Linked DNA regions of Homo sapiens. The protein of the gene in region 2 interacts with the protein of the main gene of each other region in a pairwise test. Each region holds a gene or a part of one and is shown on either strand. Other genes may lie near its edges.

Region 1 (8,011 bases), on a different chromosome or scaffold from region 2:
GGTATGTTAAATCTGGGCAGAAGCTTTGCACAATATGTCAAGTTCCCCTTTCCTGCCCCAGCAATTGTGGAGACATATTAAGATGAAGACTCCTTGGGCCTGGGTCCTTGAGTAGCCACAGTGAGCACAGCCCCCTTGCCGGCCCTTATTCGACATGCTACTGAGAACCAATCCTTCTTCATTAGGTCATCAATATTTGGGGATTTTTGTTCACGCAGTATAATCTTGCCCATCCTCCCTGGCCCAGTGCTCATACGCCCCCTTCACAGAGCCCATAGGCACAGCACTCACCTGCTCACTCTCTGAGGTCACCGAGGTCAGGTGTGAATTCCTGGACACACAGAACTGCTCGGCACTATACCAGGTCTTTGGAATGAGAGAAAAGTAATAGAAGTTCCCCTTGAAGTACTTCCAGCCTTGAGAAACCACCTGTAGAATATCATCTAGAGAACAAGAGGTAAAAGTGAACGCTGGTATTCTTGATTTCTTGGGATGCTGGCTTGGTGGGGGCACTTGAATGAGGTCTCAGAGACAGCAGCAAATGGAGCTGTGCGCTGGTGTCCTTGGGTCCTTGTATAGGAGATTAGGGACACTCTTTCAAATCCTGAAAGTCAGACAGAGACTAATAGAGTCTCTGGGACTGGAGAGGTTATAATGCAAGAGGTTGGACAAAGAGTGTCTTCCCCATGATGAGGAAGCAACCCTCCATCGGCCATGACAAGTGGCTGAGCCCCTGGACTCTAGAAAGGAACTTGATGGGAAATGACTAGGTGTGGGCCAGGGTGGACATCCCCTAATGCTTTTACATTCTGCACTTTTGTGTGGGAGCTCTAGCTGGACCCTGGTCTCTTTTCTCCTAACAGCCCCTAAGTCCTCCCCAACCTCAAGCCCTCTCTCCTTAACTTCCTAGCCCATGGCTGCCCCTCTTTTGCCCCCACTCTCCTCCCCAACCCACCAGCCCAATGGCCTCAGGTCTGGGACAGGTAAGATCCCATGGGCCACTGGTCAGCTTCAATGTAATTTTCTGAGTCACTTACTTTGTCGTTTGAGCAACTTGCTCATATTCTCCAAGCTGCCCTGGAGTGCCCGGATCTTTGTATTTAAAGCACTGGCTTTCTCCAAATCACTTTTTAACTCTGGGATTTGGGCATTTAAGGTACTGACTTCTTCCCAACTTCTTGTTAAGATCTGGATCTGTGCGTTGGCCTTCTCCACACTGGTTTTTAACTTCAGGAACTGAGAACGCACATAACCCAGGCTCTCATTCACCATCTGGATCTGAACGCCAGCTGCCTCCATGCCGTCACTATTCTTTTTAATTTCAGAATCCAGGGTGCTGATGTTGTCCACACGACCTTTCAGCAACTGGACATTGGTCTTTACATCTGATATGGTGCCCATAAACCGGGGATCTGGGATTGAGAAAGTCAGGAGGTCAGCTGAGGGGAGTCCCAGGGACAGGAGTGGGGGTGTTGTCAGGTTGATCAAAGGAAGGGAAGGAATAGGCTGAAGCTTCCCAAAGAACCAAGACAGTCCAATGGGCCACCCCAACCCTCCAATCATTCATTAACGTACAACAAACGTGCAATGGGCACCTACCATGTGCCAGGAACACAGGTGGATACAGATAATGGGGAGATTGATAAAACACAGGCTCTCTGTGAAAAGATTTCACAGGCAAGCAGAAGCAGGAGTTAGAAACCATTCCTGAATTTTCTGAGTGTTCAGGGAACATTTGATAAAGGGTGCCCTCCATGAGCCCCACCACTGTCCCCAGAACTTGATTCCCCCTAGACCCCACCCCTTGGTTGCCATCCCTCTGTTTTCAGAAACCCCTGCAGTGGCCATCTGCTAGGACAGCACCACTCCCCCACATCTGTCCATGGGCCCCTCTGTGACCATGGGAAGAACCAGCCACTAATCTGGAAGTGGCTTCTCCAGAGAACATGGAAGAGGAGATTACAAAACTGTTTCTCCCCTTCCCTTGCCCCACCCACTTTCACATTCTGCTCAGGTCCCAGGCCTGGGTACCAGAGAGAGGATCAAAGATAAACCAAGAGGCTCAAAGGCGAGCCCTGAGGAAAATGCGATGTTAGAGGCCAGGGGTCTAGGATGGGGCAAGGGGGACTCTGCTCAGAGCCTACAAGTCTAAGCCCAAATATGTCCCGAGGCCACAGAGGGAGAAAAAAAAACCCAACAGCTTCTTGGGTCCCTTTGCTCTGCTTCCTGGAGCCCTGGCAGGAGGAAGAAGGCTCTGCCAGCAGCAAAGGCCATGAAGCCTGACAGAGCCAGAAAAGGAAGAAAGATAAACCATGCAACATCAAATGAGCAGGAAGCCTCCCTAGATGTGATCTTCACAGGGACAGGAGAATGAAGACAGCACCAACGAGTCCTGGGGAGAGGGGACTGAGTCATGGAGATCTGTTGGCTCGTTGGCCAGGCTCTCCATCTGGTGAGCTGGGGCCAATGATACATGAGGCTCGGTCCTTCACAGGGTCAGGAGACATTGCACTGTCAAGGACTGTCCACAAGGCTCTAGATCCAAGGAGCAGAGCTCAGATTGGTGGGGGGTGGACGGGGAGAAAATAGCACAGGATGTAAAACTAGATCAATGTTTCCTGAGGACAAAAGAATGTATCCTTGAGCACCAATGTGCAAATGCTAATCCCAATAATCTCCCAGAAATTGGGAGGGAAAGAGCATCAGCTCACCGTACTGGGGGCAGCACAGCCTGTTACTGCACATGGAAAGAGGAGGAAGGAGACAAATGAAAAAGCCACAGGCAGGAGAAACCCGGAGAGCAGGGAAGTGGTCTCGATCTGAAGGGAGCCGGCTGGCCACAGAGAGGGGCTAAGCCCAGACGATGAAACATGAGGACTTACAAAGGACGGCCTGCAGCAGGACGGAGGCGACCAGGACCAGCGTCAGGCAGATTAATGCAGCACGGACTGTGGGTGTTTTCCCCGGGACCAGAGATGGACCGGACTTGGGAGGAGGCTCTGTTGGAAGAAGAAGAAAATGTGTGTTGAAGGAGCAGCAAAGGGCAGGTTTGCACACAGAACACGGAGCAGGTTCTCAGCAGCGATGTGGCTTGCCTCGGGGCCAGAGGGAGATGTTCTGTTTGTCCACAGTGAAGTGCGCATCAGGGGCCTCCTTCTCCACAGTCATCCTGAGTGCTCACCCTTATCCTGGGAGCACAGGTGCTTCTGGCTGCCTGTCTCTCCAAGGGCTCTTATCTAGAGGAAACAGGAAGTCAGTCCCACAGCAGGTCACCATATCATCCCAACTTCCCTATTCCTGACTAGATACCTTGTCTGGCTTACTCCCATCCTCAGAAGTCTGAGCTTTCAGGAAGAGGCCATTTGTTGTCTTCTCTGGGGGTCTGTTACATGGATACATTAACCATCTTGTCCCAAACCTATCCCATTTCTCTTGTAAGACTCTCGTCATCCATCCACCCATCCATTCACCCCACAAATACAGGCTGAGTGCCTTCTAGGTACTGATGCTCTACCAGGCATAGGGCCACAGTGATGAATAACTCGCAGTCCTTGCACCAAGCAGCTCATAGTCTGGTAGGAAAGACAGACATGAGCAAATAAATTGCAAGGTGATGAGCACAAGAGACAAATATGCCCAGTTCAAAGAAGCATATGAAATGGAGTAATGGGAAAAAAAAAAATCCAGTAGAAAGATAAGCATATGCCAAAGGATGGAGCATAAGATAGCATGGAGTGCTTGGCAAATTGTAAATAGTTGCAATATTGCTGGAATGTAAAATATACATTCCAACAGGAAGGGGATGCACACGGGGTTGAAGAGGCACCTGGGGTCTGATGATGAAGATCCTTCTGATCATGTCAAGGAGCTGGACCTCTGGCTTGTGGGTGACATGGGGCCAATTAAGGACTTCAGGCAGGAGAGAGACAAGGACAGGGACACTGTAGAAACATCACTCTGATCCTGGTGAGGAGCAGACTGGTGGGGAGAAGCCTGGAAGCAGAGATACCAAATAGGCAACCATTGCAATAGAATATCCTGCTTCCTGTTATTAATGCATCTTGGCTGATACAATATCCCTTTATAATATGCAACTTGGAGATTCAAAGTGTAAACCTAAGACTTGGGTTCTCCTCCCTGCTTCCTGCACCATGTGAGATTTTCAAAAAAAGTAGGGGCGCTCAGCAACCTCAGACTAGGAATCGTTCTGTTTCTCTCTCCTCTCTCTCTGTCCGCACCTCCTCTCTCCTTCTTTGTAGTCCTAAATAGAGAGTTCCATATGTGCAAGAAGCTCAGGGCACAGAAGAGCTGATTTGGGCTCAATGAAGGACTAAATTTTCTCCTGGGCGGCTTCTCATGCTTTGAAGAAGTCTGCCAAATCTGAGAAATTTGGCACATGGCAGACTCTAGACAAATATTTCTTGGAATATAGGAAAGAGGAGAGGAAAGAGGGAGGGAAGGAAAGAAAAAAGAAGGAAATTGGTCCAGATAATTGGAGGATGGGTGAATGGATGAATGGATGGATAGAGGATGCATGGATGGATGTGTGAATGGTAAGTGACTTGGAGACTTGATAGCTGATCATGCCACTCAGACATTTACACAGTCTGGGGCCTGGGATCTGCCTTCTAGAAGCTGCTGCTTTTTTCCACTGTCTCCAGAAGTTCTCATTCATCTTCAATGCAAAAGCATAAGGGGAAGTGTGATTTACTCCTTACCCAGGAATGAACAAAAGCTCTGGCCGCAGGAAAAGAAAGCTGTCCTGGGCCTGCTGAGGCTGAGCCAGTGGAGCTGGATGACAGCCTGTATCAGGGACCAGGATTAGAGGTTAAGTTAACAGGGCCAAGGAAATATCTACCTATGCTTTCAGGGGCTACTGCCACCTTTGGTACTTGGGAGGATAGTGGCTGCACGCTCAGCCCATGCCTATGTGCAGCTCATTGTAGTTACAGGCCCTTGATGCTCTCTCTCCAGCTAACCGGGCCTCAGGCTGGAGTGGCTTCTCGGACTGGATGAGGGAACCCAGAGAGGACCCCACACTGGGAAGCTCTGGGAAGGAAACTGGGTAGCAAAGATGGTGTCTCATTTGTTCTGTCCCATCGCTTCCCTACCCAGCCTGTCTGTAACTTCCAGGCCTGCTGTCTGCTCTAAATTTTAACATTTGATAGTCCCGAATATGAGGGCCTGGCTCCACATCACTGCCTGCCTCTGGGTGTCCATGAAGATTCCTACTCTCTTCAGGTGGCTCGTGTGGTTGCAGAGCCTTGGTTCCATCAGGGCTTAGACAGGATTAGAATGTTCCACTTCTGGACTCTCATGCTTGGGACCCAGCCTAACTCCAGAATCATCTCTGCCCTTCTGCTCCTGGCTCCTGGCCCTTCATCCATAGCCTGTCCTATTTCTGGGCCTGGGGATAGAGAAGAATCCAAATTACTCAAGACCCTGGTAGAAGGGGCCTTGCAGGGGTCCATGTCTCCTCCTGAGGCATTTGCGGGAAAGAAGCCGCCACACAGTGTGCCTGGGAAGTGTCTTGTCCATTTCCGCTCGGTCAGGAAGTTGGGTTTTCTCTGCTGGTTTGTGGTATGAGTTATACTTTATAGAGCCCCCCAGATGCCCTCTCATTGGTCCCAGGAAAGGATGAGGAAGCCTTAGCGGCTGGGCCCATGGCATAGGAAGGGGCTGGAGCAGGGAGCATTTACTCCAAGTGATGGAAATGCAGGCTGAGGTAGGTAGAATAGCTACCGCTAGGCGAAAGGCTGTTCCAGCATGAGGAAGCTGAGCAAAGGCATGGAATCCTGGGCTGTGGGCCTTCTGGGGTTTCAGAGGAGGTGGATGTAAAAGTCCCAAACCATAGGAAGTTTCATTTCCCACTTTGTGGAGAGGGAGGGAGTCAGAAGCCATCTTCCTATTATCATGCTCATCTACAGGTCTTTCCTGAGCACCTCTCCTGTGCAAACCTCTGGATGCTCTATCTGGCACCTGGCCTGGCAGGAGAAAAGACAGAGAAGCAGGCAGGTGCCTTGGCCACACTTTCCAGTCAGGAAGGTGGGCAGTTCTCCCGGGCACTCAGACAATGCCCTGCTCTTCCAAACAGAAGAGGAACTCTGGCCAGACCTAGTGACCAAAAAAATCACCGCTGTGATGAGAACGGGAAGTCTGTGCTCATTTTTTTAGTTTCTCCTCTTCCTGTGTTCCTGGGGTTCTAATATTTTCTCTGGATAAGGATGGAGGAAGAAAACAGCTTGGTCACTTTTTCCCTTTCTCTGGTTGAGACTATGGTTGGGCCCAGCCTTATGCTTGGAGGAGAACCATGGGTTTAATCAACAAGACTGGAACAGAGACCTGGGTTGTATGAAATGCTCCAGCAGTGCCAAGAGTCATCTCCAGGGAGGAGTCACCCAAGTCCCTCAGTCAAGTCATGGAGGAAAGTAGAGTGAACACCAAATTGCGGAGTGGGGACAGGGAAGGAGAAGAGAGGGAGGAGGGGAGAATGACTCTGAAATGAGAGGAGATTACAGCTGGTCACACCTGGCTTACATAGGGACTCCTGTGATGTGATGCGGGATTTGGCCCACAGCCTCCAAAAAATCAAGGGATTCCATGCCACCCTCCGGACATGCGCCCTGGGCACAGGGGATAGGGCAGAGAAACCAAGGAGCATAGGTGGCACCATTCACTCCTCTAGTCCTGCTGTGCACTAGGTACCAGGACACAGCAAGGAAAAAGACAACCACAGACCCTGCCCTCAGGAATGGTTTTCCTATTGTTGAAAAAATATGACATCCTTAATGCTGGGGAGAAGGGAAGGCTCTCCCGAGACTAAAAATGACTGACGACACTATAGGGGCCTTCCCAGGTCTCCTTGGACCCTGATAACGGGTTCCTCTTTTATGACATTATATGAGGACAGGTCTCTTTGGAACAGTGACAATAAGCCAGACCCTACTGATCAGGGTATTTCACCCAGTGCCATCATAAATAGTGTGATATGTAAATAGGCTGGCAACCTAGCCACATGGAAGAGCTGCTGTGTACCCGGCAGAGGAGGCTGCCCCAGACTACGTCATAAGTCAAAGAACTCATGCCTATAGCCTCAGTGGGAAGGGCAAATCTATGTCAGGAAAGTAATGAAAGGCTTTTGGGAAAAAAAATGTGCATAGTTTCTTTTTAAATCTTTTATTTATTATATAATTAATGATAATTAATTATAGAAAAAAATCCAAGTAAGAAAAAAACCCACCATAGGCTGGGTGCAGTGGCTCATGTCTGTAATCCCAGCACTTTGGGAGGCCAAGGTGGGTGGATCACCTGGGGTCAGGAGGTTGAGACCAGCCTGCCCAACATAAGTGAAACTCGTCTCTACTAAAAATACAAAAATCAGCCAGGCATGGTGGTGGGTGCCTGTAGTCCCAGCTACTCGGGCGGCTGAGGCGGGAGAATCACTTGAACCTGGAAGGTGGAGATTGCAGTGAGCTGAGATTGTGCCACCGCACTCCAGCCTGGGTGATAGAGTGAGACTCTGTTTCAAAACAAAACAAAACACAACAAAACCATCGTAGAGAAAACAAATGTTGTACCCATAGTTCAGTCTTCCTAACCACCCACGTGTATATGTATACACATCTATATCTATAGCCATAGCTGTGTCTAATCATAACTATGCATATATTATATACATATTCACAACACAATTCCTGCTTATTTTCCCTAGCATCCTTCCCCACCTCTCCTGCCTTTCTTTTTTGTTTTTTTGTTTTGTTTTCTTTTGTTTGAGATAGAGTCTCACTCTGTTGCCCAGGCCGGAGTGCAGTGGCGTGATCTCGGCTCACTACAACCTCCGCCTCCAGGGTTCAAGCAATTCTCCTGCCTCACCCTCCTGAGTAGCTGGGACTACAGGCGTCTGCCACCACATCCGGCTAATTTTTTGTATTTTTAGTAGAGACGGGGTTTCACCGTGTTAACCAGGATGGTCTCAATCTCCTGACCTTGTGATCCACCTGCCTTGGCCTCC
Region 2 (7,273 bases):
TTTGCAGTCAGACAGGCCTGGTTCAGGTTCCAGATCTGCTGACTTTATTTATGTATTTTTCTTCTAATGCTCTCTCAGCAGACTCACGTCTGCTGCCTTTCTAGGTGTGTCACCTTCAGCAAGCTAATTTGAAACTCTTGATTCTTCCCCTATCAGATAGGGAACAATGACGTCTATCTTCCATGGTTCTAATAGGACTTACATGCAATATTTTACCTATGGGAACAGTCAGCCTTGGTGGAGTTGGGGCTGTACTTTCTGGCCAAGCCAGTGGTTGGTCTCCAGTTCACTCCCTACTATGTCCCTACATTAAGCTCCGATGTCAGTAGTCACTTACCACTGGGCCCTGTGCTATTAAGTAATATGTCTAATCAAGGAGGAAGAACAAAAGACCTACAAGACTATGTATTTCAAGGAAAATGAGATTAAGACCTATTTCTTTGTGGAAATAAAAAATATTCTTCCACATTTACTATAAAAAGCCCCTAGCCAGGGTTGATCATGTAGGTTTATTGCGGCACACTAACGGCGTCTGAGTGTGTAATCCCTGACCTGACCTAGGGCAACCAACAGGCACTACTGTGACTGCCCCCATACACAGGAAAGAAATAGGTCACCTTTTCTAATTTCACTATGTTAGCTGTAAGCTCTTGACAGAGAACCTCCACATTGAATTGTACTTGTGACCTCAGGCCAGATGGTGCTGCCTGTCTGTAAGAAAAAAGAGAAAAATTATTATGGGCAGGGATGACAAGGAAAGAAGTGGAATGAACACATTTAAAATTTATTTGAACAGAAAATTGGTTTATAATAGAAGAGAATGAACATTTCATTTGTTAATATTAGACAAAGCCCTGCAGTAATCCGCAACTCCAGGCTAGATGTTTAGGGAACTAATTCTTAAAAGCTCAGCGGGAAATCTCTTAAGCTATTTTTGTTTAAGTGGATATGGTGTGTTTCGGCTTCTAAACAAAAATCAGGCAATTATTTTCAAGCACGTGGTTTCTTAGAACCCTTTTATTAACCCCTAATATCCTTTCTGTCTCCACCAGAGCATAAACTTACAAGAATTATTGTACTTTTGAGCTATTTATACTAGAACTTTACAAGTTTAGGAATGTCCTTATCTAGTTAATCAAATGTCCCTTGAAACACGAGACTTTTGTAGTTTCTTCTTTGAGATTTATCATACAACTATAATTGCCCTTGTCTCATAATCAGGCGTGAGCCACTGTGCCTGGCCTGGAGTCACTTCTTATCTCTATGCCAATATTAACTTTTTGAACAAGATGGGAGAAACTAAGGGCAGAGTATGAATCCATACCAAACTGTTTATTAGGCTTTTGTATTTTATTAGTTCAAGTGTATATTTATGGGTCAAAAATAACCTGTATGCCTGCATACATGTAAGCCACCTAAAGGTAATTCCTATGGAGTAAAGAAAGGTCCTAGAATGGTATAACACAGTATTTCTCAAAGTATAGAGCTCAGACCATTGCCATCAGCACCACCTGGGAACTTGCTGGAAATGCAAATTCTCAGGCCTCATCCCAGACCTACTATATCAGGCACTCTGGAGATGAGCCCTGAAATCTGTTTAAACAATTCTAGATAATTCTGATGCAAATTAAAATTTGAGAGCCACTGGTAGACTGAGGAGCCCATGGTCTTTGTAGTTATATAGACCTGCAGCTGAATCTGCAAACTGTAAGACATTAAACTAATTATTACTCTGAGTCTCAGTTTCTTCATCTGTAAAATGGGAACAGTTCTATTCTAAGGTTATGGTGAAAATATAATGAGGAAAAATCATCTGTATTTGTATGTGTATGTATCCATTCTAATAGAGCCTTCAGCATGTGGTGAATACTCTGTCAGGAAATATCTCTACTTCAAAAACTTGGGCTAAATGTACACTTTCTAACATGGCATAAATTATTTCACTTTTTAGGCAATGTGTCAAAAGCTTCTTGTAAATAGGTTTAAAGAAAAGAGCTCTATGTCTGAAAAGGTTTAATTAGGCCAGGCATGTTAAAAAAAAGACTGATGGAAAATCTTCACAGACACATTCAATTAATTACTAGTCACATTGATCTTGACAGTGGTCAAGAGTTTTGCAAATAAGTGAGTTAATATAAAAAGTTATACATGATAAAATGTGCTGAGTTTCTTGAATTGCTTCTTTCTCTGAGTGTCTTGATTTATTGCCATTTTACTAAGGTAAACTTGTGTAGTTTAATAAATGGGGCAAGGTCACAACTGCATCTTAGCATATTCGAGCAAGATAATGTAAAATTAGGCTTGTTTCTTGCCTTATTACTAGCAACATTACCACAACTCCAAAATAGTACAGGGTTAGGTCATTCATTTCTAGACCCTCCTACCTTTTTACTTTCCACATATACACTTAACAAAATGTCACATACAGAATGTATCTCCAATTAATGTTTACTAAGAAGGATGCTAAGTTCAGGTCAATTATTATATTAAGCAGAATGGCAAGCAGATGACAGCTAGAGGCAATCGTCTTACTCAGTATTATGGGTGTCCACAATGGAGGTTAGTAACCCCAGCTGCTCCTCCAGAGTATTAATTCTGTATCTCATGTAGAAGGTCGAGATGATTAGTGCACAGACACTGGAAACGGATGAAAGAGAAACTTTCGTTAGGTTAACGGCCAGGATCTGATGTTCATAAAACAACTCAGTGCCAATGTGGTACACCCGAGGCAAGGTATTTTCCAAAATAACTTGGTAAAAAGATTTTAAAAACATCCTTTTTAAACAGGCTGATGCTTGTTATAAAACTTACAGCTAGAAGAGACTTAAAATCCTCTAGCCCAAGTCCCTTAATTTGCAAATAATGGCCCTTCTAATAGCACTGGTCAGAGCCAGACCCAAGTTGGAGTACCAAGCCAGTGTTCCTCCTCCCTGCGGTACTACCGTCCTCTGCCAGAAGAGCCTGGGCAGATCTTAGCCATGTTCTCTGGTGACTCCCTCCTTTATCTGGAAACCAGACTGGGCATATTTTCCTTGGTTGGGAGGAACAGCCTAGAACTGGGTCAGGCTATTTTCAGAAGAACAATTGGTTACACGCTAGAAGTTAAAAAAGTCTATGCCTACATTTTTGGTAAAGGGGATGAGGACAACATTTTCAAGTTGTGTTGGCCCCTGTTCAGGGGACATGGGACAGATGGCAAAACAAAATTATAGCTAGATAGAAGGAATAGGTTCTGGTGTTGAATATCACTGTAGAATGACTAAAGTTAACAATGATAGAGTTTCAAATAGCTAAAAGAAGGATATTGAATGTTCTCAACACAAAGAGATGATAAGGGTGATGGATATGCTAATTACCCGGATCTGATCAGTATACATTATATGTATCAAAACATCACTATGTAGTCCATAAATACCTACAATGATTATATGTCAATTAAAAAAATAAGGTAAAAAAAATAACAAGGGTAAAGATGCTTCATAATTCACAGAGCAATTTCCCAACTAATGGTACCCACTCAGAACTTAGTCCTCTGCAGGGTTTGGCACAACCATGAAAATGTGACCTAAGCCTAAGGAAAAAAACCTGAAGTAGGAGACAGAAATTGTCAAAGTAAAGATGTAGGTCACATTTCAGACAATTGAGATTTACAGTAGGTCTTGGCAGTGTGAAGAGATTATTCCTTTAGCGAATGGAATCATTTTCTTAGTCACTCACAGTAAATTCATGTACTTACACAATTGCATAGAATATAAGAATATGGTGAAGCATCGGACATTTCTGAGACTTGACTTTATGTAAGATTCCAACAGTTTCTGACAGACCTGTTGGGAGGAAAACAAAAAACAACTGTTTAAAACCATAACACACTTCTTTTATCCAGCAATATCCCTATGGGGTACTTGAGAGAGGTAATTGTTCCCAGGTAAAAGAAATCAGAGAAAATATCAAGTCTCCCAGTTGTCATTTTAACCAGTGGTTACAATTCCTTCCAACACATTCCATTGATTACATACCTATCCACAGCCTTCTTTGTGTCAAGCATTGTACTGGAATCAATGATGGACAATATAACAATATCCTTGCTCCCTTACCAGTATAGCTAGTTATTAGAATAATTAGTAAATAAGAAATTTGAGTTTTACTGGAAAATTTTTTATTTTTTTGAGATAGTCTCACTCTGTTGCCCAGGTGACAGTGGCGTGATCACAGCTCATTGCAGCCTTGACCTCCTGGGCTCAAGCAATCCTCCTGCCTCAGCCTCCCAAGTAGCTGGAACTACAAACATGTACCACACCCAGCTGATTTTTAACTTTTTTGTAGAGATAGGGTCTCACTATGTTGCCCAGGCTGGTCTTGAACTCCTTGGACTCAAGCAATCCTCCCACCGCAGACTCCCAAAGTGCTGGGGTTACAGTAACAGAAATTTTTGAAAGATAATCTCATGTATTCAGAATCATGAAGTGACCTCCATGAAGGCTATTCACTTTTGTATCCCCCACTGTAAGCACGGAACTGGGTACTGTTTGCTAAAAGAATAAGTGAATTAATATGCAAAGACCTATAATACAAAGGGAGGAAAGGGAATATGAAAAGCAGTCATAAGGTGAAACCCAGTTACAAATAGGCCGGGCATGGTGGCTCAAGCCTATAATCTCAGCATTTTGGGAGGCTGAGGCGGGTGGATCACTAGAGGTCAGGAGTTCGAGACTAGCCTGACCAAAATGGTGAAACCCTGTCTCTACTAAAAATACAAAAATTAGCTAGGCATTGTGGCATGCGTCTGTAATCCCAGCTACTCAGGAGGCTGAGGTACGAGAATCGCTTGAATCCAAGAGGCAGAGGTTGCAGTGAGCCAAGATCATGTTATTGCACTACAGCAGCCTGGGTGATAGAGCAAGATGCTGTCTAAAAAAAAAAAAAAAGTTACAAACAGACATCTCCAATCCTTCTAAACCCACCCCCCTGAGACATCCATTCCTTACCCTGTACAGGGAGACTCTTGGCTTTTCCTTCAGGTACTCTGTTCACATGGGCATCTGCCCGAGTTGGCTTTGCTTCTCCCTTGGAGACATTCAGAACTGTTTGGGATTCTGTCGCATGGAAATCTACTAAGCCAAAACAGAGCTGGGTAAGTGTTCTCTCCAATGTATTTAAAAACAGGATTAATCTCCAAGTAAATCAATCCCTTAACATGCATAATGGTCAAGAATGTGAATGGATGGTCTCACAAGTTAGTTGTGGTGGCTGGGGCTGAAATTGAATGCTTAAGCAAATAAGTAATAAAGTGATATAAGGATAGTCTTTCATTTTCCAACCAACTCACATGGATAATTCAGCTGTAACAATTAAAAATATTATTGAAATAAGAGGGAAGAAAATAGGCCGGTGCGGTGGCTCACGCCTGTAATCCCAGCACTTTGGGAGGCCAAAGTGGGTGGATCACGAGGTCAGGAGTTTGAGACCAGCCTGACCAACATGGTGAAACCCCGTCTCTACTAAAAATAACAAAAATTAGCCGGGCTTGATGGCGCATGCCTGTAATCCCAGCTACTCAGGAGGCTGAGACAGGAGAATTGCTTGAACCCGGGGGGTGGAGGTTGCAGGAGCCGAGATTGTGCCATTGCACTCCAGCCTCAAAAACAAAAACAAAAACAAAATTGTATGTTTTTTTCTCTCAACCACCCCAACGTTAGGTCTATTTAAAAGACCTCTGTTAAATGTGCATAAAAGCAAATGAATTTTTACCACATAGGCAATTCTTTTCCCTCCAACTCTCAAGGCATCCTTTCTCCAGATTCCATTCCTGATTTTTAACTAGGAAGACAATGTGGGTTTTTTTCTTTCTTTTCTTTTCTTTTTTTTTTTAAGGGGGTGGGGTGAGGATGTTTTGAGGGGAATTAAATTTTAGTCAAAATACAACAATTTCCCAAACCTCGAGAGTTCTCAGATTCAGGAGTTTGAGAACCAGAACTGCTATATCCTTCCATGTCTTGCCTTCTTTGTTGAACCACTCCATCCAGATCTGAGAATTCATCATTGAAATCCTGAAAGGAAACAGTGAAATGAAGACAGGCTGATATTCCCTTAGTAAACAGGCAGGCCTTTGTAACTCCCAGCCCTTTCACCTAGGCCTGACCTATAAAACATAGAATAGAAGGAAGGATTACTCCATACGACTGGGATTTTCCCAACAGATGACTGAGTATCTGGTTACTGAAACAGATTTTTCAGGCAGTTAAAATTCTGTCAACAAACACTGGCCAACTCGTTCGAAACAACAAATGTCTAGGAAAACACCCAGAATGCCAATAATTGAGAAGCTTCCAGTGTGAAGCTGAAGGTTTCATTAGCACTTCGTAATGAGAAAACCTGATTACTACAGACATATATAAGAGAAAAAAATAGAAAGCTTTAAATCCAAGTTCAAATATGTAGACAGAGAGAAAGATATTACTAACTTATAATTTTTTTAAAAAAGTATTGGAAACAGAAAAGGAAAAGTGGCTTTAGCCAATTAGACCCTGAAAGTAAAGTTTAAGCTTTTTTTCTCCCCTCAACTAAATCAAAACAGGGTTAGTGATAGTACATTTAAATTTTAGAAAGATGATGTAGGAGTAAGGTAAAAAGCACAGACATTCTACTTTGTATTCTACTGGTTCCCCAAAGTGCTTAAGAACTGAAGAGACAAATGGTGTCATTAAAATGTCCTGGCAAAGGTACAATTAGGCTGAGCTTTTAACAATTTAGTCAGCTGCCAAATGAAGAAGAGACTCATCTTGTAAGCAAATTACCAACCTTTCACCTTGAACTAGCTGTCTTTTGTTCATCTCAACACTCATTTCGATTTCATACAAGGATTTATAGGAGAAGGAAAATTGAAAATTTCTTCAATGTAATGATTTCTTGAATGCCTATCTCATATCAGGCAGTATGCAAAGCTCCTTACATACATGATTGCATTTAATCTTCACAGCCACATCATGAAGCTGGCATTTTAATGGATGAAGAAACTGAGTCAAAGCAGTTAAAGCTTGCCTGATGCTATAACATAGCTGGGTGGAGCCCAGATTTAAAACCAGGTTTCTTGGATTCCAAATCAAGTGTGTTACATTATATTCTGTACTGCTTCCCACCACTGTTTTTCAAGGTAGATTTTTAAGAAATTGAGATAAAATTCAGGTAACATAAAATCCACCATTTAAAAGTATACAATTCAGTGGTGTTTAGAATATTCACAATGTTGTACAGCCATGGCTACAATCTTGTTCTG

Evidence for each region.
Region 1: the proteins of GRAMD2B (region 2) and CD207 interact in binary tests that used the Homo sapiens proteins (3 or more experiments, as listed by UniProt).

Annotation. Positions count from the first base shown.
Region 1 is NC_000002.12:70,832,609-70,840,619, forward strand, and holds the start of CD207 (C-type lectin domain family 4 member K), read right to left. Parts: upstream 3,209-8,011; 5' UTR 3,169-3,208; coding exon 3,096-3,168; intron 3,000-3,095; coding exon 2,883-2,999; intron 1,413-2,882; coding exon 1,038-1,412; intron 444-1,037; coding exon 292-443; intron 1-291. UniProt on the Homo sapiens protein: Calcium-dependent lectin displaying mannose-binding specificity. Induces the formation of Birbeck granules (BGs); is a potent regulator of membrane superimposition and zippering.
Region 2 is NC_000005.10:126,482,237-126,489,509, reverse strand, and holds part of GRAMD2B (GRAM domain-containing protein 2B), read right to left. Parts: intron 6,048-7,273; coding exon 5,936-6,047; intron 5,112-5,935; coding exon of another isoform or gene 5,109-5,111; coding exon 4,986-5,108; intron 3,825-4,985; coding exon 3,737-3,824; intron 2,638-3,736; coding exon 2,533-2,637; intron 712-2,532; coding exon 618-711; intron 1-617.